7 linked regions of the Homo sapiens genome follow. The protein of the gene in region 3 interacts with the protein of the main gene of each other region in a biochemical or structural test. Each region holds a gene or a part of one and is shown on either strand. Other genes may lie near its edges. The genes, in order: FRMPD3, GOPC, KCNV1, GRID2IP, PALS2, ARHGEF11 and FRMPD4.

Region 1 (3,500 bases), on a different chromosome or scaffold from region 3:
TAGATTCAACAGCTAGGAAATTTTTGTTAATTGTCCTAAAGAGGGGCTGGCAAAGAGAGGTCTCTCTCTATCCCTCCTCATCTGGCCAGGCCCGCCTACAGTCATTGCAGCTGAGGCCATTTAGCTGAGCTTGTCCTCTCTCCAGCAGCCACGTGGGACTCAAGCCTGGGAGCAACTAGCACTCTCTCCAGACTCTAAGCAAAGAGAAATGCCAGCCCTGGGGGCCAAATACATGGGGGTTGTCCAATGTCAAGGGTGTCCTCACACATGGAAAAGGCAGGCTCTCTCTGACCCCAATCCCTCGTGGTCCCTATTCCTCCCTATTCCTTTTCTGTTGCTGTGTCATTTACCTCTTCTCTTTCTTTTTTCTTCTTTTTTTTTTTTAGAGTCTCACTCTGTCACCCAGGCTGGAGTGCAGTGGTGCAGTATCGGCTCACTGCGACCTCTGCCTCTCAGGTTCAAGCGATTCTCCTGCCTCAGCCTCCTGAGTAGCTGAGACTACAGGTGTGCACCAGCCCACCCAGTTAATTTTTGTATTTTTAGTAGAGACAGGTTTTCACCATGTTGGCCAGGCTGATCTCGAACTCCTGACCTCAAGTAATCTGCCCACCTCGGCCTCCAAAAGTGCTGGGATTACAGGTGTGAGCCACCACGCCCAGCTCTCTTCTCTTTTTTTAAGGTGTATGTATATGGAGGGACATATGTGTGACTATGGGTATGTGTCTGACATGTGTTTGTCTACAAGATGGACATACATGTGTTTATAACAGGGAACAGCATGCATGTTGTACGGTTTTCCTGTGAACTAATACTTAGTTACAATAGCTACCACTTACTGAGGCCTTACTGTGTGCTAGGCAGTGCTTACATGCTTTGCATGAATGATCTCATTCAATCCTTGTGACAACCCCATGTGATAGAACTACTTTTATAAAACCCATTTAAGATGATGGAATGAGGTTCAGAGAGAGTAAGTGCCTTGCCAAAGGTTACACTGACAATGATTGAAGAAACCAGGACTTCGGTGCATCTGATTCAGAGCCCATGTTCTTAGGCAGGATAAAGACCTCAGCCATGAGCAGTGATGGCCCTTGGCTCCCCTGGTCCCAGGTCACTAGGTAGTGAGTTGGTCGTTTTCCTTTTCTTTCAATCATGTGCATGCTGGATGTTCTGTTCTTCACCTGTCTTCTACATCTCTCACAGTTTTTCTCTGATCCTCTATCCTGGCCTGCATCCATAGCTGTCATGACCCCAATCCCTGGGATCTATCTGTAAGGCATTTCCAAAGAGATGCAATGACGAGAGCCAGAACTCTAGCTAGAGCTGAGCAGCTGCTCCCTGCTGTAACATCATTGCTCCTCTGACCCTATCTAAAGAACCTTTGGTACATCCACTGCCCTGACATACCTCAGTGACTCTGACACCTATTTGGGAAGACACAATGTTACCTACTGGCCCTTGTTGGACAAGAGAAGGGGGTGGAAAGAGGGAGAAGGAATCGGTCATTACCTGCAGTCTGTGGGGGTGGTGGGTGTGGTCCATCCTCGGATGCAGCCAGGGCTTCTAGAGCCTGCAGAGTGGACACCAGGGCATCATCTAGCTCCTGGGCATGATCTCGAACTGTCCGGGTCTGCACACTGTCAATCAATGTCACTGGAATCTCATCGTACAGAAGCCCACGCAGGTGGCGTCCTTGTTCCTGGCTCTGGACAGCCCGGCGCTTGGGGTCATCCTCATCAGAGCTGTTGTCTCGGAAACCAGGGGGTGGGGCAGCAATGGCTGGCAACAGAGAAGTTGTCTCATCTTCCTCCTCCTCCTCCTCCTCACTCCCAGGTGGTGGGAGGGACATCAAATCTACTATATTGTCACGAGAGGAGCCAGGCTTCCCACCTTTGCGAGGGCCCAGCTGCTCCTGAAGTTTGGCTTTGCAAGAGTCACAGTAGAAATTCAGGGCTTCAGCCCCAAGGGAATTGTCCAAGGTGTAGGACCGGGCCCTGCTGGCACAAGGCTCGTGGTCTAGGCTAGCTGCATCAAAGTCATCAGGGACTACCTCATAACCTTGGCCAGAGCTTTTGGATGTGGGGTCAGACTTGGTTCGGGGCCTGGTCTCCTCAAAGAAGATTAGGTTCTCGTTGACATCTGTCCGGCTTTCCTGCTCCTTCCTTTGTTCCCGCATATGGAGGTAGCAGAAGCTGACAAGCTCAGAGTCGGCAGGTGGGGGCGTGCAGCGGCTCGATTTCCTGGGGCTGGTGCCCACGCTGCCCACATAACTACTCTCCTTTTTCCCCAGGTGGCCCCCAGTGACAGGGCGGTGGGCGCTGTGCATGTAATCTAAACCCAGAAAGAGAATCAACAGATGAGCCCTGGTGCCAAGGATTGTGAATGAGCTCCCTTGTTGTCTCTGGCCCATGTCTCTGTAGCACAATCAAGTGGCAGGTCCCAAGACAAAGCATTACCTGGCTGCCAAAGATTAGAGGTAGGGAAGTTGATGAGCTATGTTACTGCTGACCCTGAAAGTAGAGTGAATAGAGTCTAATAACCTGAGCTGCTAATAGCCCCATCACCTCTGAAATGGGAAAAGGCATGGGGTATGGTAGGGGTCGGGGTGAACACCCTGGTTTAGGGCCTGGTATCTGGGCACAGCTGGACTCTTACATGGATACCCTCTATCTGAAAGTCAGCTGTAAACGTATGTCCCACTTGGAACTGTTCCTACCCCTGTCCCCACCCCTTTTCAGAGCTTTTCCACCAGTGCTCTGTTGTTCTTGTTATCTTGAATCTCTTCTAGCAGAAGGAAATAAATCTGACAAGTTACTAATGCTTTAGTCAGAACCTGTTAAACAGGCTACATATAATGCCGAAGAGTTTGCATTTCAAAGAGGCCTGTTGATGGAGGGATCCTAAAAGAATAAGGCTCTATATTAGAATTCCGGGGTCTGAATGTGTAAAGTATATGGGAGATATGCTGGGATGTGCATATGTGGGAGGAGGGCAGGGGAAGCATTCTTATAATTCTTCAAATTTTATTCTTTTCTGCATTCATGCAGGGCCAGCCCTACCTGCTACACATACATATGGCAAATGCTCTCGTCAACCGCTCTTAATGATGGTAGGTGTGTGCATCTGAGAATTATCTATAGCAAATGCTTTATCTGTGAATACCTTCTCTCACTGTTTTTGGAGCTCTTCCCCATTTTATCTGTGAGAATATACTCGGACAGCAGACAGACAGATAACAAACAAGCACTAACTTAGGCTAAGGTCCTAATATACATGATCCTACTTATTCTTCATAACAACCCAATGAGGTAGTTATTATCATTATTCACATTTTAAGGATAAAGAAACTGACTCACCTAAGGTTACATAGACCAAGTGGTAGACTGGATTTCCGCCTAGGTCTGAAAGACTTCAAAACCCATGTTTTTAGCCATTACCCTTATAACTCATCATGGTGGTCAAGATGCTGGAAAACAAGCCTTCAAAATGCCACTCAAACT
Region 2 (3,500 bases), on a different chromosome or scaffold from region 3:
AAAACCCATCTCTACAAAAAAAAAAAAAAAAAAAAAAATTAGCTGGCCATGGTGGCAGGCATCTGTAGTCTTAGCTACTCAGGGGGCTGAGGTCGGAGGATCTGTTTGAGCCTGGGAGGTTGAGGCTGCAGTGGTCCGTAATTGTGCCACTGCACTCCAGCCTGGGTGACAAAGTGAGATCCTGGCTCCAAAAAAGAAAAAAATGTTACAGATCGTTTTATGTTAAAAGAAAAATTTCCAAGCTATAATTGTCATTTAATAAGAGACTCCAACCACTACATATAAGTGTGGTGTTGGCAATTCTGAAAACTATGGCTTGCCTTTGCTCAAAAGAAAACACGGCATTTTTGACTGCTACTCACTAAGTTAGTCTCTTTGGTGCTCTTCTTTCCCAGCAGTTTAAGGTTATACCTCAGAATTTTAATATGTGCTTAGTTAGCATTTCCTTAAAACTTATGGCTGCCCATTGATAGCTCCTTCACCAGTTATCCCACTCTTTTGCTACTGGATGACAGTCAAGATGGATTGATAAAACACTAACTTAAGAGAATAGCGTAGCATTCTTAGATCTCTCTTGTCAGCTAATGCTTTAAAAATACCATTTTGCAGAAAGAGACAGATGATGCAGTGGTCTTCAGCAAAGTTTTAGATGACAGAATTAGATCTGTGAGTAGCTGTCATGGAGACACAGATTTCAGGCTTAATATGAGAAAAAGCTTTCTAAAAATCAGTACTGTATTACAATGGAATGGACTGGTTGATATCAGCAAGTCTTCCCTGTAATGTAATTATTGAAGTAGTGATGTTGCAAAGATTTATGCATCATATAGAATTGAACCAATGAACAATATTCACTTTCAACTCTGAGATGCAATTCTACAGAGGCATACCACACTGATAATCCAAGAAACATCTCAATGTACTACCAATGCCTCTAATTCCCTCAACTCTATTCTTGAAAGAAATAAAATAAAACAACATTTTAAGTACAACTGTATGACAAATATGACTCCTGAGTATGAATCTCAATTCTATAATTTATTTGCTTGGCAACTTTGAGTAAATCCTTTCATCGCTAAGAACTTTAGTTTACTCATTTTAAGAGAGTTGGGCTAGATAGTTTCTATGTGTGATTTCAATTTTAATATTCCATGACTAAAATCAATCTACTTCTAGCACTGTCTTTTCTGTAATACCTTATATATAGTGTTCTAGGCATTAAGGATGTTGTTTTTTCAGTCTCAGGTCCTGTTCTGAGTACTTTATATGTATTAACATACTTAATCCTCACAGCTTTCTTTCAATCCCTCCCACACAGGTGAGGACACTGAGGGACAGAGGACTTAAGTAACTTGCTCAAAGTTATGAAGTAAACAAAATGGAATGGTCCATTTTCAGTAAATCTGACTGAATGTCAGCTATAAAAGCATTAAATCAAAGGAAACAAGAACTATGTGTAAACACTTTACTACTTTAGAAACTTCGTAGGGAAGTATACAGTGTTCAATAGATTCATAACCAATTGATAGATCCAGTTCTAATTACATGAAGGGAATTTACCTGCTGAGAAAGAATAGTTACAGCTTCTTTATGCTTTGTGTCCCTTAGGTTAACTCCGTTGACTGCCAAAATAGCATCCCCAACGTGCAGCCCTCCGCATCTATCAGCAGGTTGCCCCGGATGGATCTCAGAGATGAGGATTGGAACACCATGTTCTTTCCCACCCTAACAACAACAAAGGGCAGTAAATTAAAGTACTCTTTGTAAGGTACAGTTACCGATTAATCTAGAGATAAAATATTTTCTTAAAAATATATTTCATTAAACACCTATGCTGTCTCTATAAATGCTGGGTAAAATTTTATTTGCTACTTAAGTAATGGTAAAAATTATCAGAGTATTGAACAGAAATTGGCTAAATTCTTAAATTAAAAAAAACTTATGTGTTAGTACTCCATAGCACCATTACATTTTATCAAGTCTAAATCACTACGAATGACAAGACCAATTATTTTAGGTGCCACAAAAATAATTTTAAGATTATAAGATAAATTTCAATTTCAGAGAAGTTAAAATATGAAAATATATGCAATGTAGAATTGAAAAAATGCAGTATTTGGTACCTATCACTCTCTAGCTTATATCATTGTTGCGTGTGTGTAGGGGTGTGTGTGTGTGTCTTATTTGTCCTGCTAAAATGTATGCTCTTTGAAGGCAGCACATAAAAAAAAAAAAGGTAAGTATTCAAGAAATATAGATTAGATGAGCTTTTTATTATAAGAAACATTTCTACATTAAGCAATACTAAAAAAACAAATGATCTTGCTCAGTGCCTAAGTATTACCAAATGAAAATTAAAGCCACCTTATTCATTAAAGCACTGAGATGACAACAAAATGACTCCTAAAGGCATCGAATTTAAAAAAAAGAATATATAACATTTGGACCCAAGAGCCAGTGAAATCTGACAGCTAATAAATGAGGCAAGAGAAAGATACACGTACTCCGAGAGAGAACAATACAATCTGAAGCCATTTAACATAGAAGAAAACAGCCACGTCTATTCCCAAGGGCTCCTAGAGGCATCACAGTATATGGCACAGAACTATTAAGTGAATCATAATAAAAATGTTAAACTATGCTTACTAAAGGTACACTTAATAGTTGCTAGGAATATTTATTTCTTAAAAAAATATTTACACAAAAGCAAACATTTATCCCCATGGGGATAAATTTTAGTTATTTAAAAAATATATCCAGAATATTCTGTTCCCCAGTGATGTCCAACAAAGGAGCATGATTATACTAGATAACTGTAGAAAATGATACTGGAAGTACTACTTCTTACTGTAATTGAAATGCCAAGGCCTTCATGATCTTCCTTAAGGAGGAGAACTTTTCTAATTGGACCAACACCTTGGCTTTTCTTTAGGGAATCTTGATCCTTATTGGGAGGAAAAAAGAAGAAAAAGTAGTATCATTTAAATAGCATACCAAATAGAGTAAACTCATACTATATAACTTGCTTTTAGAAATCTGTATTAACTTCCTGGAATGGATAAACAGTATAGGGTTAAGAAAGTAACAGATAAAATGGAAAAATGAAAATAGCTATTCTGTTGATGCAAAATTTATAGATGATATTCTCACCCTTTTGCCAATAATGTTTAAAATATTGATACATCTCTTTTTAAATTGTAGGGCATTATAAAAGAAATGATTTCCAGGAATTAATTGAGGAACAAATATCCTCAAAAAATAAAAGTGTCTATCTTCACTGGATATCTTTAAGATATACATTCATTTTAGCTGAGTTGTAGAGTTGAAAAACAAATTTCCAATTGGACCATTAATTACTTATACATTCCTTGGTGCTCTGGAGTCTACCTCTTAAATAAAGGGCCTTGATCCACTAATAATCTTTTCTCTGGTACCCTTACTCTTTCTGTCTCTACTAAGCTGTTTTCCTACTCAGCAGATAAATGAATCACAAGCCTCTT
Region 3 (3,500 bases):
GAGTTCAGACCTCCTCCTGACATACTGCTGAGAATGTCCCCTGAATATACATGTGATGTTCTCATGTCAATTTTATCACCAATGCCTAACTTGCTTCTGCTGCTTCACTTTGTTGCTATGGTGCCCATTGTTTACTTTTTCTGGCTTTCCTGTAATCAGGTTCCTGATTGTCTTAAACTTTACAAGGAAGGTGAGAAAAACAGACACATAAAATACAAGACAACATAAAACTGGCATTTGAAACAAGTGCTAAAATGATGCATTGAAATGCAGGTGTGACCAAATATGCCCTCCACATGCAACACCGCAAAGGCCTCTTATTGTACAGACTAAAGTACAAAACTCCTATCATACCACCCCTGCCTGCCTTCAGTCTTACCTCTCGCCTTCTTTTTAATAGTAGAAGTTCAATAATTCTATAGGTGAATTAATGAATCTAATTATATTTCTCTCTAGCCTTCTCAACCTGGCCCCATCAACTAGACTGTGAACTTCCTGGCACAAGGATTATGATTTAATCAACTTTGTATCCCCAGAACATTGCCCAGTGCTGGGGACATTTAAGTGTGCAGTGCAGTTTGTGGGTGGCAGAGCAAGGAGGGAGAGGGGAGGGGAGGGAAGGAAGAGAGAGAAGAGGGATGCCAATGACTGACAGCATTTGTTCTGTTGCAGGATTACGCTCCCTTGGGATGACAATCACCCAGTGTTACGAAGAAGTCGGCCTACTGCTCCTATTTCTATCCGTGGGAATCTCTATATTTTCAACTGTAGAATACTTTGCTGAGCAAAGCATTCCTGACACAACCTTCACAAGTGTCCCTTGTGCATGGTGGTGGGCCACCACCTCTATGACTACTGTGGGATATGGGGACATTAGACCAGACACCACCACAGGCAAAATCGTGGCCTTCATGTGTATATTATCGGGAATTCTTGTCTTGGCCTTGCCTATTGCTATTATTAACGATCGCTTCTCTGCTTGCTACTTCACCTTGAAACTCAAGGAAGCAGCTGTTAGACAGCGTGAAGCCCTAAAGAAGCTTACCAAGAATATAGCCACTGACTCATATATCAGTGTTAACTTGAGAGATGTCTATGCCCGGAGTATCATGGAGATGCTGCGACTGAAAGGCAGAGAAAGAGCAAGTACTAGGAGCAGCGGGGGAGATGATTTCTGGTTTTGAATTAATTTTCAATTTATTTACAAAAGCTATGTACAATTAACTAAAATGATAAAGCAGTGATGTGGATTTCTGTATTCTGATGATGAGTCTCTTCAGAGTACTGCTCATCTTAATTAATTTTTGCTGATATATTGCTTCATCTACTAGAATATTTCACATCACCTATAACAACTGCACAGTGTTCTGACACATTTGAGTGTCCAAAATAGCCAATTAACACAACCAAATACAACTGGGCCAATATAAACATGTTTGAATTGTCAAATATAAAATAATGTTATTGCAATACATACAAAAAAGTTAAAGATTTTATGTATCACTAACATTAGAAGTTTTTTGCACCACTAATTTTTTAAAAATGGAAGGTAAACTGCATAGCCCAGAGAAAGATAAGTAAATATTTAAGAACATATTGAACAACTTTGCTATTTAAAGATATTATCCAAGTACATAAATTACTCCGTTCTCTATCAGTTAAAGCTATTGAATATAATACTTAGCTTTACAAGAGAAAACCCATATTTGATGGGCAGAGATTATATCCCTATCTTCTTTTTCATGTAAACCACTGGTCACAAATGAACTGATCTCTGTATCCCATTATTACTATAAGAGGTGGGAATCCCAAAACTGCTTAGATTGCAGTACATGAGTCTACACAAAGACTTCAACAATTGCACATCTTCATTCTCCCAACTGAGTGTAGTATGTGGAGCATAAAACAGCATATTTCTTAGTATTTCATGAATATCAGATGGTCTTTAAATGTCTCTTTATGGATGTATTGTTCACATTATGGCTTTAAAATAATGAATATGTAAAAGTGAGGTAGTGAACATCCTAAATTTCTACACTGGAATTACTAAATAATCTTATTTCATAAAATGGGAAATATATGTTAAATGACATCACTGGATGAACTTGAAGATCTTTTACTTGTTAACAAAAAAATACTATGGACAGCTTTCTGATTGTTGGGGTAAATAGCAAATGTTCAAACTTTGCAGGCATTTTGACATTCATCATAACAACACAATTCCTAGACATTGTATTATATAATTAAAGCCAAAACCTCTAAAGCTAAGAACTAGCTCATGATTCCCATTATTTTAGTAAATGAGATTCTACAACCTAAGAATAACAAGGAATGCATCACTTTAATACCTACATTTCCAATATAATAGAGCCCCCAAGGGGAAGAAAATTGGTTCTTGAGGAAAAAAAAATCTTATCACTTCATTTACAAAACACAGATAAGCATATTGAGTATATCTGTGGTATTAACATTTCATGGGGGTGAGATGTTAGGGAAAAAAGCCTAGAAGGCTCTTTGCCAGGGGTGAATGGTGATAAGAAATAAACATTGAGGACTGCTTTAATATATAGCTATAAGGTATTTCATAAACTCTATTTAAGACATCATATTATGCTATGCACTACCAAGAAAGAAAGATGCCAGTCAATTGTAAGATGCCATTAACTGTAAAATGCATCCGGATTTCAGATATGTAAAAATTTAAAATAAGCACCTTAAAATCAATGAAATATCGCATGTACTACCTCCTGTTTTCTGGTATGCATGGTTAAGCTCTGAAAACATTTTCACTGATGGCATGAGTTTTAGATTGTGTGCTAAAGTACTTTAATTCATTTAACTTGTTTCCACTTCTCCTAAATATTATAAAAGGTTCAGGAGATATGAATATTAGTAAGATAAATATTTTACTTCTTACACACATACATGGGTGCTAGATTGTGGCACAGGGCCACTAGTCATAGTATAAATCCCTTCCACAATCTGAAGGGAAAGTAGAAGTTAGACACAGAAGGTAAACTTACTCCAGCTTTTCTAGAACTTTCCCTAATAAGAATAGTTACTCTGATCCAGGACTATGCTCTGTATTCATCATGTATTATGCCATTTTATCCTCAAAATATCCCTATTATATAATTACTATTCTTATACTCTTCAAAATACATATTTTATATATTTATTAACTCAACAAATATTTATTAAGGATCTTTGGTGTTCTGGGGACTAGGGAGTCTTTCTTAAACAAGACTAGGTCCTGTTTTCTTGTAGTTAATATTCTGTTCAAAGGTGTGTGAGGAAAAGACAGCGAAACTGAAACATTAAAAGGTATAAACTTGCCTAAATTCACACAGGCTATAGATGGCAGAGCCAGCGCTGAATACCAATCTGCCTGACCCGGAAAACGACACTCCTAAAAGTCAAATTGCAGATTTCATTCTTCCTACACAAGCTCTGCATAGAAATTTATTTTTTAGGCAGGCAAGCCAACTTCTTGTGCATGG
Region 4 (3,184 bases), on a different chromosome or scaffold from region 3:
GAGACTCTGTCTCAAAATTAATTAATTAATTAATTAAAGGCAGCCTCTGCAAAGGAAATTGACCTGGCACATCAGACAGGCATAGGCCCAAATCCTGGCTCATTTCCTTACCTGCTGTGGGACTATGGGCAAGTCAGTTACCCTCTGTGAGCCCAGTTTTCTCATCAGGAAAAAGAGGGGTCATGAGAACCTCTACCACAGTGGTCATTAATTGATGTGACCCTGGTGGGTTCAACCGTGGCTCAGGCACCACAGTGCTTGCTGTGTGATCTTGGGCTAGTTGCTAAAGTCCTGTGTGCTTTAATTTGTTCACATGTAAAATAGAGATAATCTACCTCATAGAGGTGTTAAACGATGATTCAACAAGCTTGGAACAAAGCTCGGCACCATTTTAAGTGCTGAAAAAATGATAGCGATTCAGCCACTGAATCTTTTTGCAAGACTGACCATGTATCAGATGCTATTCTAAGCCCTGGAGGTGCAAGGAGGGAGCGAGCTTTCACTTAGGCAGTAGGAAATGAACTTATGAACAATTTCAGATCATGACAAATGCTCTAGAAAACAGAGTAAGGCCTAAGGCCAGGTGCAGTGGCTCACACCTGTAATCCCAGCACTTTGGGAGGCCAAAGTGGGAGGATCACTTGAGCCCAGGAGTTTGAGACCACCCTAGGCAACATACACCCCATCTCTATTTTAAAAATCAAAAAATTAGCTGGGTATGGTGGTGTAAACCTCTGGTCCCAGCTGCTCGGGAGGCTGAGGTGGGAGGATCACTTGAGCCTGGGAGGTAGAGGCTGGAATGATCTGTGAGCTGTGATCACACCACTGCACTCCAGGCTGAGCGACAGAATAAGACCCTGTCTCAAAAAAAAAAAAAAAAAAAAAAAAAGTAAGGCCTAGAGAGTGACAGAGGGGCCTACTGTAAATGAGTGGTTGGGGAAGAAGGTGGCAGTGGAAGCCTCTGATCAGAGACCCAGGGCCTGGCCCTGCAGAGAGAACAGGGGTGAATGGCCTGAGGCTGCACTGGCTGTGGCCAGTTCCAGGATGAGTTCAGTGGCCAGTGGGACTAGAGTCCCTGAACAGGGCCTGGTTCCCTGTTGGACACAGGGCCTGGCCCTTGGAAGGACTCAGGCCAACCGGGAATAGGGCTGCTAGGGACCTGTCTGTCGGGCCACCACCTGAGACCCTGGGGGCACAAGCGGGCTGGCTGTTTCCTTAACTGAGGCCTGTCAGTCCTTCCTGGAGACGGCCCAGCCAGCACTTCGGGCGCTCGACGGGCTGCAGCGCGAGGCCATGGAGGAGCTGGGCAAGGCGCTGGCCTTCTTTGGGGAGGATTCCAAGGCCACCACCTCTGAGGCTTTCTTCGGCATCTTTGCAGAGTTCATGAGCAAATTCGAGGTGAGCCTCGCTGGAGCCCTGAGGGGCCCTTTTGGAGAGGTGGGGGCCAGAGGCCAAATGAAGGGATCCTCCATGAAGCCAGGGCTGGGAAAGGGGCTCCAGTGAGCGACATGTCCCCCTAACCCCCTGATGGGCTGTCTAGTGTGGGAAGAGACAGGGAAGGCGTCACAGGTTCCTGGGACCACTGACCACCCTACCTCTGTGTTCCCCCTCCCCAGCGAGCGCTGAGTGACCTGCAGGCCGGGGAGGGCCTGCGCAGCTCCGGGATGGTTTCACCCCTGGCCTGGTGACAGTGGCCACACCGCGTCCTCTGCGGCCTGAGCAGGGAGATGGAGGCCGAGAGGGCAGCCCAGACACTGCCGAGGTCCGGGGCCACTGTGCCCCGGGCTCTGAGCACACCGCCAGCCTCTCCTGCAGCTACCTCAGCCGCCGAGCTGTGGTCGGGCCCTCCTCTGCCAGCCCTTGTTCCTACCCCCAGGCCCAGAGCCAGATGCTGTAGGAGCAGGTGCTGAGTGTGCCTGCACATGGAGGACCGTGCTCTGTCGGCTTCTTGGGCCCACTTCCCACTTCGCTCCCAGGCTGTCAGGGGGGCCTGGAGGGTGGATTACAAAGTGGCCACATTCCTGGGACATGTGGACCTTTTTTCTGATCCTGCTCCTAGTGGGTCCCTGTGAGGGGGCCGACACCCTTGAGCACGACCCTGCAGGCAGGCGCGAGACGCGAGAGGGCAGAAAGCCGGATGTAGAGGGGCCCTGGGGATGTGCACGCCCAGCCTGGGCCTTGGAAGCTGGCTTCAGGGACACAGGAAGAGAGAAGCCTGGGAGAGACGCAGGGAAGGAAGGACTGGAGAAGGAAGACCCCCTATGTCAGACTGCGGAATTGAGGTTTCATGCAGTGGACAAACCCAAACCTGTGTAGAGGTGGCCCAATTGGAAGTGGGGAGCCTGGGAGTGGAATAGGTGTGGTCAAGGTAGAGCAGACAGAATGGGGAGGTGTTGAGGCAGGAGGTGAGCAGGATCTGGTGGCCAACTGCCAGACTTCTCACCTGGACGGATGGTGATGTTCCCTGGAGCAAGTCATGAGACCGGGGCAGGTGTGGGGGCAGATGACACAATCTGGGATGTGTTTGGGACCCAAATGGTCATTTTACATGTGCCTAGGCATATAGCAGGAGTTACCTGGATACCAGGAGCAGGAGCAGGTGGCGTGGTGGGCAGGGAGGGAGGGTGTGTGAACTGTTTCACCTTTTTTAAAATTCTCTGATTGACAGATCCTTGGATCAGACAGCTTCCCTCGTTGCACTTTTTTTTTTTTTTTTTTTTGGAAAAGTCTGAAATGGGCTTTAATCCTGTCTCATGGATTCTTTTTCTCCCACTGCAATCAAATGGCTTACATTGCACCTGGGCAGTACTGGGAACCTGTTCAGTTCTTCCCAGTCTCCCCTAGGCCCCTCTTGGAAGCCACCTTTGTTTTTTTGTTCCTTGCACACAAGCACCATACAAAAACATCAAAACCAAAATATATACTGCAAGGGGGATGTGGCTAGTGGGGTACATTTCACCCTAGCAGCTCAAGCAGAATTGTTTCCAAAAGTTCCCAGTGCCTGTGTCTCTGGGAAACATGTCAGGAGGTCAGTTAAAACCTCTGCAGGCAGGGCGTGGGGGCTCACGCCTGTAATTCCAACACTTCGGGAGGCTGAGGCAGGTGGATCACCTGAGGCCAGAAGTTCAAGACCAGCCTGGCCAACATAGTGAAGCCATATCTCTACTAAAAATACACAAAATTA
Region 5 (3,500 bases), on a different chromosome or scaffold from region 3:
AAGACATAGAAAACTTTTATAAGAACAAAATGAACTTCAAACTCATGCTCAAAAATAAGGGTCAAATGAGATCATTATGTATAATAGGACTCCTGTTTTCCCCTTGTTTTCTGGCTCAACCTTGAGAGTGGTCGTCTTAGACTACTGTGAAGAGTATTTATAAAGTATCTTTGAGAATCTTCAAGATGCTATGATGGCTTTTCATATTTAAAACTGTGTGATCTTTAAGGTTTCTGGAATTAGTCACCAAAGGTGTGTATAATAAAACTTCTCAATAAATGTAATCCAGCATATAAACAGAACCAAAGACAAAAACCACATGATTATCTCAATAGATGCAGAAAAGGCCTTTGACAAAATTCAACAGCCCTTCATGCTAAAAACTCTCAATAAATTAGGTATTGATGGGACGTATCTCAAAATAATAAGAGCTATCTATGACAAACCCACAGCCAATATCATACTGAATGGGCAAAAACTGGAAGCATTCCCTTTGAAAACTGGCACAAGACAGGGATGCCCTCTCTCACCACTCCTATTCAACATAGTGTTGGAAGTTCTGGCCAGGGCAATTAGGCAAGAGAAGGAAATAAAGGGTATTCAATTAGGAAAAGAGGAAGTCAAATTGTCCCTGTTTGCAGATGACGTGATTGTATATCTAGAAAACCCCATTGTCTCAGCCCAAAATCTCCTTAAGCTGATAAGCAACTTCAGCAAAGTCTCAGGATACAAAATCAATGCATAAAAATCACAAGCATTCTTATACACCAACAACAGACAGAGAGCCAAATCATGAGTGAACTCCCATTCACAATTGCTTCAAAGGAATAAAATACCTAGGAATCCAACTTACAAGGGATGTGAAGGACCTCTTCAAGGAGAACTACAAACCACTGCTCAACGAAATAAAAGAGGATACAAACAAATGCAAGAACATTCCATGCTCATGGGTAGGAAGAATCAATATCGTGAAAATGGCCATACTGCCCAAGGTAATTTACAGACTCAATGCCATCCCCATCAAGCTACCAATGCCTTTCTTCACAGAATTCGAAAAAACTACTTTAAAGTTCATATGGAACCAAAAGAGAGCCTGCATCACCAAGTCAATCCTAAGCCAAAAGAACAAAGCTGGAGGCATCACACTACCTGACTTCAAACTATACTACAAGGCTACAGTAACCAAAACAGCATGGGACTGGTACCAAAACAGAGATACAGATCAATGGAACAGAACAGAGCCCTCAGAAATAACGCCGCGTATCTACAACTATCTGATCTTTGACAAACCTGAGAAAAACAAGCAATGGGGAAAGGATTCCCTATTTAATAAATGGTGCTGGGACCACTGGCTAGCCATACATAGAAAGCTGAAACTGGATCCCTTCCTTACACCTTATACAAAAATCAATTCAAGATGGATTAAAGACTTAAACGTTAGACCTAAAACCATAAAAACCCTAGAAGAAAACCTAGGCGTTACCATTCAGGACACAGGCATGGGCAAGCACTTCATGTCTAAAACACCAAAAGCAATGGCAACAAAAGACAAAATTGACAAATGGGATCTAATTAAACTAAAGAGCTTCTGCACAGGAAAAGAAACTACCATCAGAGTGAACAGGCAACCTACAAAATGGGAGAAAATTTTCCCAACCTACTCATCTGACAAAGGGCTAATATCCAGAATCTACAATGAACTCAAACAAATTTACAAGAAAAAAACAAACAACCCCATCAAAAAGTGGGCGAAGGACATGGACAGACACTTATGCAGCCAAAAAACACATGAAAAAATGCTCACCATCACTGGCCATCAGAGAAATGCAAATCAAAACCACAATGAGATACCATCTCACACCAGTTAGAATGGCAATCATTAAAAAGTCAGGAAACAACAGGTGCTGGAGAGGATGTGGAGAAATAGGAACACTTTTACACTGTTGGTGGGACTGTAAACTAGTTCAACCATTCTGGAAGTCAGTGTGGCGATTCCTCAAGGATCTAGAACTAGAAATACCATTTGACCCAGCCATCCCATTACTGGGTATATACCCAAAGGACTATAAATCATGCTACTATAAAGACACATGCACACGTATGTTTATTGCGGCATTATTCATAATAGCAAAGACTTGGAACCAATCCAAATGTCCAACAATGATAGACTGGATTAAGAAAATGTGGCACATATACACCATGGAATACTATGCAGCCATAAAAAATGATGAGTTCATGTCCTTTGTAGGGACATGGATGAAATTGGAAATCATCATTCTCAGTAAACTATCGCAAGAACAAAAAACCAAACACCGCATATTCTCACTCATAGGTGGGAACTGAACAATGAGAACACATGGACACAGGAAGGGGAACATCACACTCTGGGGACTGTTGTGGGGTGGGGGGAGGGGGGAGGGATAGCACTGGGAGATATACCTAATGCTAGATGACGAGTTAATGGGTGCAGCACACCACCATGGCACATGTATACATATGTAACTAACCTGCACATTGTGCACATGTACCCTAAAACTTAAAAGTATAATAATAAGAGGGGAAAAAAAAAAACCTTAAAAAAATAAAAAAATAAAAAAACTTCTAAGGCAACTTGTAACTCCCCAAATAAATGCATAATAGGACTTGGTTCAACATTGTGAACATTAATTTTAAAAATTAATGTTTTTTCGGTGAAGTCCTACAGTGAAACCATATAGGGGAATGCGCTGCTTGAAATAAATATGTATATGCACATGTATTACCTCTACCTCCATGCTGAGGGAATCTTAATTCTTAGAGAAATGTTCTTTAGTTTACAAGTGAATTTTAACTACAATCCTATTCTCTACTAACACTTCAAAAAACAATCTACGTTGCCACATATTTAAACTGCTTTCCATTTCTAGAACAGAGAAATTAGAACATGAAGGTTTGACTACAACTGATTCCTTAGACTTCTATACTGCGCAACTACATAATGTGATTTTTTAGAAGTAATTTTTTATGATAGGCAAAATTCTCAATTTTAGCTGCTCTTCAAATAATGAAGACACAATCAACAAAGTAATACTTCATTTGTTAACTAAGCTCAAGATGTCAAGATGTCAATGTTAAATTGAAAACAGGATGCATAACATAGCCCATCTCCCTAAAATAACAATGTTTTTCTATTTTATCTTAGGATCATTTTGTAATATATAAAGAAAGTTAAATCACCTTAATTTTATAACAGAAAATTTTAGAAATTCAAAAATATATGGAAAATAAGCAATATACTCCCAAATAACCAATGGATCAAACAAGCAATCACAAGTGAAAGAAAATACTTTGAGAGGAGATGGTGCTGTTGAAGAGCACAGTTACAGACAGAGCTGACCAGGCTCTTCCAGAGTGCCAGTTGTCCAGCAGCATGTTCATTACCCTGAAGATGTATGATGGTTGAACTAAACCCATTCATTCTAAGAAAAGGTTCTGTGGAGGGCTTTAAGCCCTTGATAATT
Region 6 (3,500 bases), on a different chromosome or scaffold from region 3:
TCAACTCTCAGCAACCCTCTATCCTTGCCGCCACCCCTGAGATGTCCATGGGTGCAGCCGTTGTAGCCCTGCCCACCTGGTGGAGAGGCTGGAGGTAGAGGACGAGGCTGACTGGTGCAGGCGAGTAGCCTCCGCAGCAGCATCCATGTCAACATCACTGCGAGAGCGGGGCACGTTCTCTGCCTTTCGAGACCGTTTCATCTCTTCCCGGCCCTTGAGGCTTTCAGAGCGGCCCAGGCGAATCTCTGAGCGTGAACTGGGGGGAAGGGACAAAAGACTTTGGGACTTGGGAAGTCAGTGGGCCATGCTTACATCCTGGCTAACTCTTACCTGTGGCTCCATCTCAAAGATGCCTCCGTGCCACAGGTTCTCCTCCTGAACATGGCCAAAGCAGCTGGATGGCAGTGGAAGCTTCTCAATGACAGACTATTTTTGCTGCTCTACAAACTCCTCCTCTCTCCCCAGCCTAGCCTGATGGATGGACAGTCATCTTCCTCTGGAGCTATTAGGAAGGGATCCTAACAGGAAGATGAAATCTGGGGCTAACAGACTCTGAGTTGTAGTGTGTCCAGAGGCCTGAGACACCATGCTTCTGTCAAGAAGGTGGTAGACATCATCGTCCCTCAACAGGGAACACAAGGTCCCAGCTCCCTGCCCCTAGTGGCCAGTTCACGTTGCCTCTGCTTTGGAACGGGTCAGCTCCCACCTTTAACTCTGCCTGAGGCGAACCTCTTTTAAGAGGTCTTAAGAGGAAAGTGGAGTCACTATATTCACAGCTCATTTTAGGATTTTCCACACTGCCTGTCAGAAAGTTCTATCTGCTGCTGGATTCTTAGCCTTCCAGTTGTGATGTGGATGAGTTCCATTCTTATCTTAACAATACTGTTCCTAAGATTCCATTTCCTCTCAAGAGCAGACAGGCTTGTGCTTAAAGGGGCCTTTTTACTGATAGGCAGGACCCGCTCCTTGGCCTGCCGTGCTTGGCTACTGAGTGTCTCTGGGGTTTGATGAGATGCTGATGACTGGGTGTTGCGGTGTCGAGTCCTGCAGTGCATCAGCCCAAGACAGCTGGCACCTCTGACCCCTAGCTGCCCCAGGATGGTCACCCCACCTCCATGCTGTGGCCCTGTTGGGCTGGTTTTCTGATATTATTAGTAATCTACATCCTGCTCTGCTTCTAGGACCACAGGAGGCCTGGAAATGTCTGCAGAGCTCTTAATAGCACAGCAGGTTGCTGCAATGAGGAGCTAAATGTCTCGGTCTCCATTCATTGTGCCCAAACTGCCAGATGATCCAAAATGGAGCTCATCTCCTAGGGTCCTGAGGGTTTTGTCTGCAGGGTTAGAAAACATACTGCCCACTGATCCCTTATTGAATTCACCCTCCAGAATTGTGTTAGAACAATCCCAACCCAGACTAACTCGGAACACTTTTCAGTGTCCTAATGGGTCACTGTACCACCACAACAAACACCCAGTGGAGTTACTGGGGCTGCAGAGCTAAGCACCTTCCTTCAAGCACCCAGAAGTAAGTAATGCTCCTCACCAAGAAGTGAGGCATATCATCTGTCTTTGCCCCCAAATTCCTAGGGTATTGCCTTCTAGAACTGGGGCATCTTATACCTGTTGAGTATCTACAACAATCTCTGACCCACCATATTGCTAATACTATTTCTTCTGAGATTGCCAATGAGTTGATAATCATCAAACCCAAAGGCTTCTGCTTAGAGTAGCTTTAGGATCCTAGCAAGTGTCTTAGGGCAAATTTACCTAGCAATGCCAAGAATGCAACTTTGTAAATGGTCTCAAATATTTTCTCAAAATGTTGATGTCTTATAATCTTAAAATATTTGATATATCTACGACATCATGTGCTTCCACAGGAATCACATAATTTGCGTATTTAACTTACCCATTAATGTTAGAACTCAACCTTCCCCCAGTACAAATCTAACCTTTGTCTCCTGTAAATCTGTCAATTCTCATGGCAGCAAAATCTTTTAACACGTGTTAAGCTGAAAAAAGGCTTCATATAAACAGAAAGGAGTAACCTGCATTCAAGCAGGAAAGGTTGGCTTATGGTTTGATAATTAGTTATTTCAAAGGCAAAATAGGCCAGGTGCAGTGGCTCATGCCTATAATCCTAGCACTTTGGGAGGCTGAGGCAGGAAGATTGCTGTGGTTGGGAGTTCGAGACCAAGCTGGGCAACATAGTGAGACTGTCTCAAAAAAATAAAAATAAAAATCAATTAGCCAGGTGCAGTGGTGCATGCCTGTATCCCTAGTTACTCAGGAGGCTGAGGTGGGAGGATCCCTTGAACCCAGGAGTTTGAGGCTGCAGTGAGCTATGATTGCACCACTGCAATCCAGCCTGGGTGACAGAGAAAGATCCTGTCTCTTTAAAAAAGAAAAAAAAATCCCCAAAACAAACAAACAAACAAACGAAGGCAAAATGGCTTGAATATCCACGCTGCTGCATACTGACTTGCTTTCATGCCTGCCTATACTCCAGCTCAGTGGCTCTGAGGCTTGACTGTACACAAGCATTATTTCCCCCCACACAAGACCATATTACTCTACCTGTTTAAGTCACCTTTAAGGGTGGTGTTGGTTTTTAAGTGTTGGCTATAGAATTTTAGACATGACTTGACTGCTGTCATGCCACAATCAAGAGCAAGTAAGTCCAAGAACAAGTTTTCATACCAGATGGGGACTCTAGTTAGAACCTGACCAAAGAAGAATATGAGAGATGCCAGTCTCAATTCCCCTTTTTCTTCTTGAAAAGGGAAAAACAGTCCATTTGTAATCAATCCACTTTGCCTCTCTTTGCTGAGGTGGACATCTGATGCCTATAGTTACATCATTTGTCTTTAAAGTACCCAGCAGAACCTCATCTCTGGCTCTCTTCTTCACATACAGACAGGAAACCACTTTCTTTTGCCTGCCTGGGTCTTTTTTCCCCAGGACTCCCTCTTGCCCCCACTATAGTCTTCCTTATCCTTGTCACTTAGGGTTTCCTGATTAGCTGCTTTTTATCACCTAGCTCGATCTTGGATGAAGGCTACTGAGTAGTCAGGTGATAAATCCAAAGGGAATTTGAAAAGTGTGTAGTTCTTGGGCTGGAAGTCGGGGATCTGCTTGCTCTTCCACTGGCCTGTTCACTGGCACACAATGTGTCTCCTGAAGATACTGGGGGTGGGGAGGAAGTTCTGTAAAGGGAGCCTTAGAAGCTAGTGGAGAGGGGTCAAGTAGCTGGAATTAAACCCTAGCATCAGCCCTGCCCATGACCCACTCTTCGAGCAGCTGGCGAGTCCCATCCAGCCAGTGCTACCTGTCACTCTCCAGCAGGTCCTCAGGAAAGCTTCCGGTCGAGAGTCGTTGTGTCCCAGGTTCTGGGGCATCATACTGCTGGTTGTTCTCAAAGTGCTGAATGATGTTCCTCACATTGCCTGGTTTGACTAGAAGCAAAAAGAAAATGAAGGACACTAGGCTTGCTGTTCA
Region 7 (3,500 bases), on a different chromosome or scaffold from region 3:
TTTATAATCTTTAGTATTTATTAAATACCAGGGGATCAATGATTGGTACTTTACAGTTCTGTGGCCTTTTAAAATTCTACCTTTTACTTTTCTTCCAGACATTACGTTTTTAAGTTTGTTGTAAATATGGTTTACATGCTCTTGGCATGTCATACAAAGTGCTAAATCCATCATTGCTGTACCTGTGGTTTCCTTAATCTTGGGGAGCCGATGGCATCCATCTCTCAATGTGCCAAACAGGGGTTCGGTGTTAATGGCTGTGTGCAGAGCAGGCACTGTCATCCGTGGACACATCCCTTCTGTCTGTGGGTGCAGTTCCTTAAAGGTGGCTCCGTGGTTGGGAAGCCCAGGGGCTCTCTCCTCTGAAGGAATGTAATTCACGCCTTTCCCAGAAGCGTCAGGAATCAAGTGCTTCCCCAGGGAGGGGCAGAGCGGCGACTCCACGGGTGTGGCACAGGCACTGCCACTGCTGCCTGTGCCACAGCCTGCATCCACTGAAGAGCCTTGGGAGCTCTGCAGAGAAAAATGGCCCTCGCTTTGCAGTGATGACATCCGCTTGGCCAAGTGGTAGTCACAAAGGCGGGCCACACTCTCATCAGCCTCAGGAAGCTTGGAAGGATGGTCGCAGGTGGACGAGTCAGCGTCCTCTGGGTTATCTAAGTCTTTGGCTGAAGATGCACAGGTCACGTCAGTTAAGAAGCGGTCCCCTTGACCAAGTCCTGAGCCATCACTGGTTTCTCCATCAGGAGCTCCTTCTTCCTTCCCTTCGGCCTCCCTTGCCCCAAGACCAGAAGCTCTTGGAAAGGTTTTCCCTGTTGCTGCTTCTAATCCACTTTTTTCAGCCATCCCACCTTCAGTGGCCACATACCATCTTTGACTGTCCTTGCGAAAGGCAGTTCTCTCCAGATTAAAAGTGCTCAGGTGTTGACTGTCTCGTGAAGACACAGTACCAAATTTACCACTGGCCTCCTCCTCCATCTCTGCCGTTTTGGTCCCCTGCTGTTTTTTTCCTGTTGTGTTCCCATTAGGGGGTGCCTTCCCCTCACCATCGGCCAGCTTGCTTTTCCTTTTGCTAGTGCAGGAGTATGCCACCGACCCCATGTGCAGTTTGCTAAAATAGTCAGTGACCGACTTAGTCTCCATAGTTTCAGGCTCCATCTCCATGTGGTCTGAGTGAAGTAACTGCTTGGAAGGCACAACTTTGGGCGGGAGGTCGGTTGCTGGCCTAGCAGCCAGGGCGTGCGAGGACTTTGGAGGCAAGCCCCCAGCGGGGGTCTTGGAGGCCGGGAACTCGGTCTGCTCTTCTGCAAGGGGGTGGTAGCCTTCGTGAGTGGCCAAGAACATGCGGGAGAGGTTTTCTGACTGTTTTTGTGCTGTGGCCAGTTCAGAACTCTCAGTCATTTCAGAAGAGTTAGTTTCATTGCCCGAGTCTGACGAAGACTCAGGACTATAAGCCCGCAAGATGGCTACACCTGCATGCCGTAAAAAACAAGAACTGATTAATGGATGCATCAGAGGCACTTGGAGACATGTAAGAAAATGGGACTCGTTATTACTAAAACAAAATACCAAGTTTTTCCCTTTTCAGTAAGGACTCTGAGTTTATTGCAGTTTTTCCAGAAATGGGGGTGGGGGGAGATGTGCCTTATGTTTTTAAAAAAAAATAACAAAGGAAATCACATACACACAAAAAAACCCATGATGGCAGTTTCAGCACATTTATGAAATGGGACATGTGTGAAATGGAGAACACCACGTAACAGGACTCCAGGGGCAAATGGCTTGGAAGGATGGAATGATATGGTTATCAGTGAATGAATGTAACAATTGTGAAAGAACCTGAATTGTCACTGGTCTGCTGTTCTTCTGACACGGATAGAGCCTCTAGAGCTCCCAGCGTGGAGACGACGGCATTATCCAGTCCCTTCTCACACTTGCCTTCGGCGCTGGTGGGCACAGCGTCAATGAGGGACACGGGGATCTCATCATTTTGCAGGCTGCTGCCTTTCTCCTTGTCCTCGGGGAAGGAAGCTGCCTGGCTCTGAGAGTCCTCTTCATCTGAACTGTCTCTAAAGCCAGGTGGGGGTGCGGCAATGGCCATGTTCAAGGAACGCAACAGGAAGTCATCCTCATTGTCATCACCTTCTGGAGGGGGCAGGGATGTGAGGTCAATGATGTCATCGCTTGACCCAGACAGGTTGAGGATGGCCGGCTGGTTCATCTCCCCCACCACGAGGTCCTCCTCGCAGCTCACCTCGTCCTCGTCCTCCGCGTCATCAGTGTTTTCTGCATAACAGATGTCATGCAAGAGGGGTTCCTCGATCCCCTCCGCGGCCTGGAAGCTCTTCACATCGCCTATGTTTGCATAAACAGAATTTTCCACAAACTGGATGCCCTCTGCCTCTGGAGTGAGATCCAGGCCCTTCATGTCATTGGCACTGCCAATGTAGAGATTTCTCTGCTTCTCCAGCATTTCAGGACCCTCATCTAGTAGCGTTTCATAGCCAAGGGTTGGGGGACTAATACCATCATCCAAGGCGAAGTCTCCAAAAATAAAGGACACTTTAGCTCCTCTCGGAGATTCCTGTGCTTTCTTCAGAGTTTCTGGTCCTGAGAGGGTCAATAGGGACCGCTGAGCTAGACTTCTGTAGTCTGCCTCACAGGGGGCCTCCCCGGGCTGGCTCAGCTGCTGGTTAAGTCCATCTGAACTATAGGCATTGTCTATGTACAAGTGCCGGTGCTCTTTTGGACACATGGTGCTGTCTGTGATCTCCACCGTCTTCTGCTTTGAATCTATGTATGTTATCTGGGCTTCTTGTTCCCCTTCGCCAATAAAGGTGGTCATTTGGGGTATACAGTTCCAATCTGGGCCAAGGAGGTTATGCTTCCCCTTGTTTTCAGGTCCTAAAGAGAAAGAATCACGCAAAGACACATTACTGTACTGTCTGGTTTTGGGTGGGGCGGGGGTGGGAGGCTCGTCTCTGTTTTTTAACTTAATGGCTTGTAGCATCACTTATGTAAATACAGTTTTTCAACTACCCAAATATAGTACTTATTGATTTAGGCTTCAGGTGTAAGAATTCCTTGGGTTAGGAGAACCGACCTTAACAAAATTGATACTGCATAAACTGTAATTGCTATTTGATAAAATGTAATACCATCTGGGGGTAGGGAAGTATAGCTTAATTCCATCTGACCCTTGGTTCTATTATTAAAAGGCTTCATTCATATCTACAAATGTAAATATACAACATGTCTTTTACCCTTAAAGGTGAGATTTCAATAGGCCGTTATTCCAGAACATTAATTGTTCTTTTCCTTGTAAGGTGAGATTTAATATTCCCTACTTCATGGAGGAAGATATTGAGTGTTTTCCTCATTGAATTCAGAGACGGTCAAGGATCGTCAGAGTTTTACCATAGTTTTTAGGAAATTAAGATAAATGTTGTAATGATAGTACAAAACTTCTATCTTCAGTCTTTTGATATCCTAGTGGATGT

Evidence for each region.
Region 1: the proteins of KCNV1 (region 3) and FRMPD3 interact in a test that uses a peptide from one of them, tested with the Homo sapiens proteins (one large-scale study listed by IntAct).
Region 2: the proteins of KCNV1 (region 3) and GOPC interact in a test that uses a peptide from one of them, tested with the Homo sapiens proteins (one large-scale study listed by IntAct).
Region 4: the proteins of KCNV1 (region 3) and GRID2IP interact in a test that uses a peptide from one of them, tested with the Homo sapiens proteins (one large-scale study listed by IntAct).
Region 5: the proteins of KCNV1 (region 3) and PALS2 interact in a test that uses a peptide from one of them, tested with the Homo sapiens proteins (one large-scale study listed by IntAct).
Region 6: the proteins of KCNV1 (region 3) and ARHGEF11 interact in a test that uses a peptide from one of them, tested with the Homo sapiens proteins (one large-scale study listed by IntAct).
Region 7: the proteins of KCNV1 (region 3) and FRMPD4 interact in a test that uses a peptide from one of them, tested with the Homo sapiens proteins (one large-scale study listed by IntAct).

Annotation. Positions count from the first base shown.
Region 1 is NC_000023.11:107,596,152-107,599,651, reverse strand, and holds part of FRMPD3 (FERM and PDZ domain-containing protein 3), read right to left. Parts: intron 2,332-3,500; coding exon 1,510-2,331; intron 1-1,509.
Region 2 is NC_000006.12:117,568,012-117,571,511, forward strand, and holds part of GOPC (Golgi-associated PDZ and coiled-coil motif-containing protein), read right to left. Parts: intron 2,945-3,500; coding exon 2,849-2,944; intron 1,848-2,848; exon of another isoform or gene 1,726-1,847; coding exon 1,561-1,725; intron 1-1,560.
Region 3 is NC_000008.11:109,965,772-109,969,271, reverse strand, and holds part of KCNV1 (potassium voltage-gated channel subfamily V member 1), read left to right. Parts: intron 1-672; coding exon 673-1,184; 3' UTR 1,185-3,500. UniProt on the Homo sapiens protein: Potassium channel subunit that does not form functional channels by itself. Modulates KCNB1 and KCNB2 channel activity by shifting the threshold for inactivation to more negative values and by slowing the rate of inactivation.
Region 4 is NC_000007.14:6,496,278-6,499,461, reverse strand, and holds the end of GRID2IP (delphilin), read left to right. Parts: intron 1-1,233; coding exon 1,234-1,398; intron 1,399-1,616; coding exon 1,617-1,688; 3' UTR 1,689-2,684; downstream 2,685-3,184.
Region 5 is NC_000007.14:24,674,452-24,677,951, reverse strand, and holds part of PALS2 (protein PALS2), read right to left. Parts: intron 1-3,500.
Region 6 is NC_000001.11:156,948,243-156,951,742, forward strand, and holds part of ARHGEF11 (rho guanine nucleotide exchange factor 11), read right to left. Parts: intron 3,458-3,500; coding exon 3,331-3,457; intron 1,776-3,330; exon of another isoform or gene 384-1,775; coding exon of another isoform or gene 331-383; intron 278-330; coding exon of another isoform or gene 257-277; coding exon 77-256; intron 1-76. UniProt on the Homo sapiens protein: May play a role in the regulation of RhoA GTPase by guanine nucleotide-binding alpha-12 (GNA12) and alpha-13 (GNA13). Acts as guanine nucleotide exchange factor (GEF) for RhoA GTPase and may act as GTPase-activating protein (GAP) for GNA12 and GNA13.
Region 7 is NC_000023.11:12,715,473-12,718,972, reverse strand, and holds part of FRMPD4 (FERM and PDZ domain-containing protein 4), read right to left. Parts: intron 2,905-3,500; coding exon 1,840-2,904; intron 1,473-1,839; coding exon 183-1,472; intron 1-182. UniProt on the Homo sapiens protein: Positive regulator of dendritic spine morphogenesis and density. Required for the maintenance of excitatory synaptic transmission. Binds phosphatidylinositol 4,5-bisphosphate.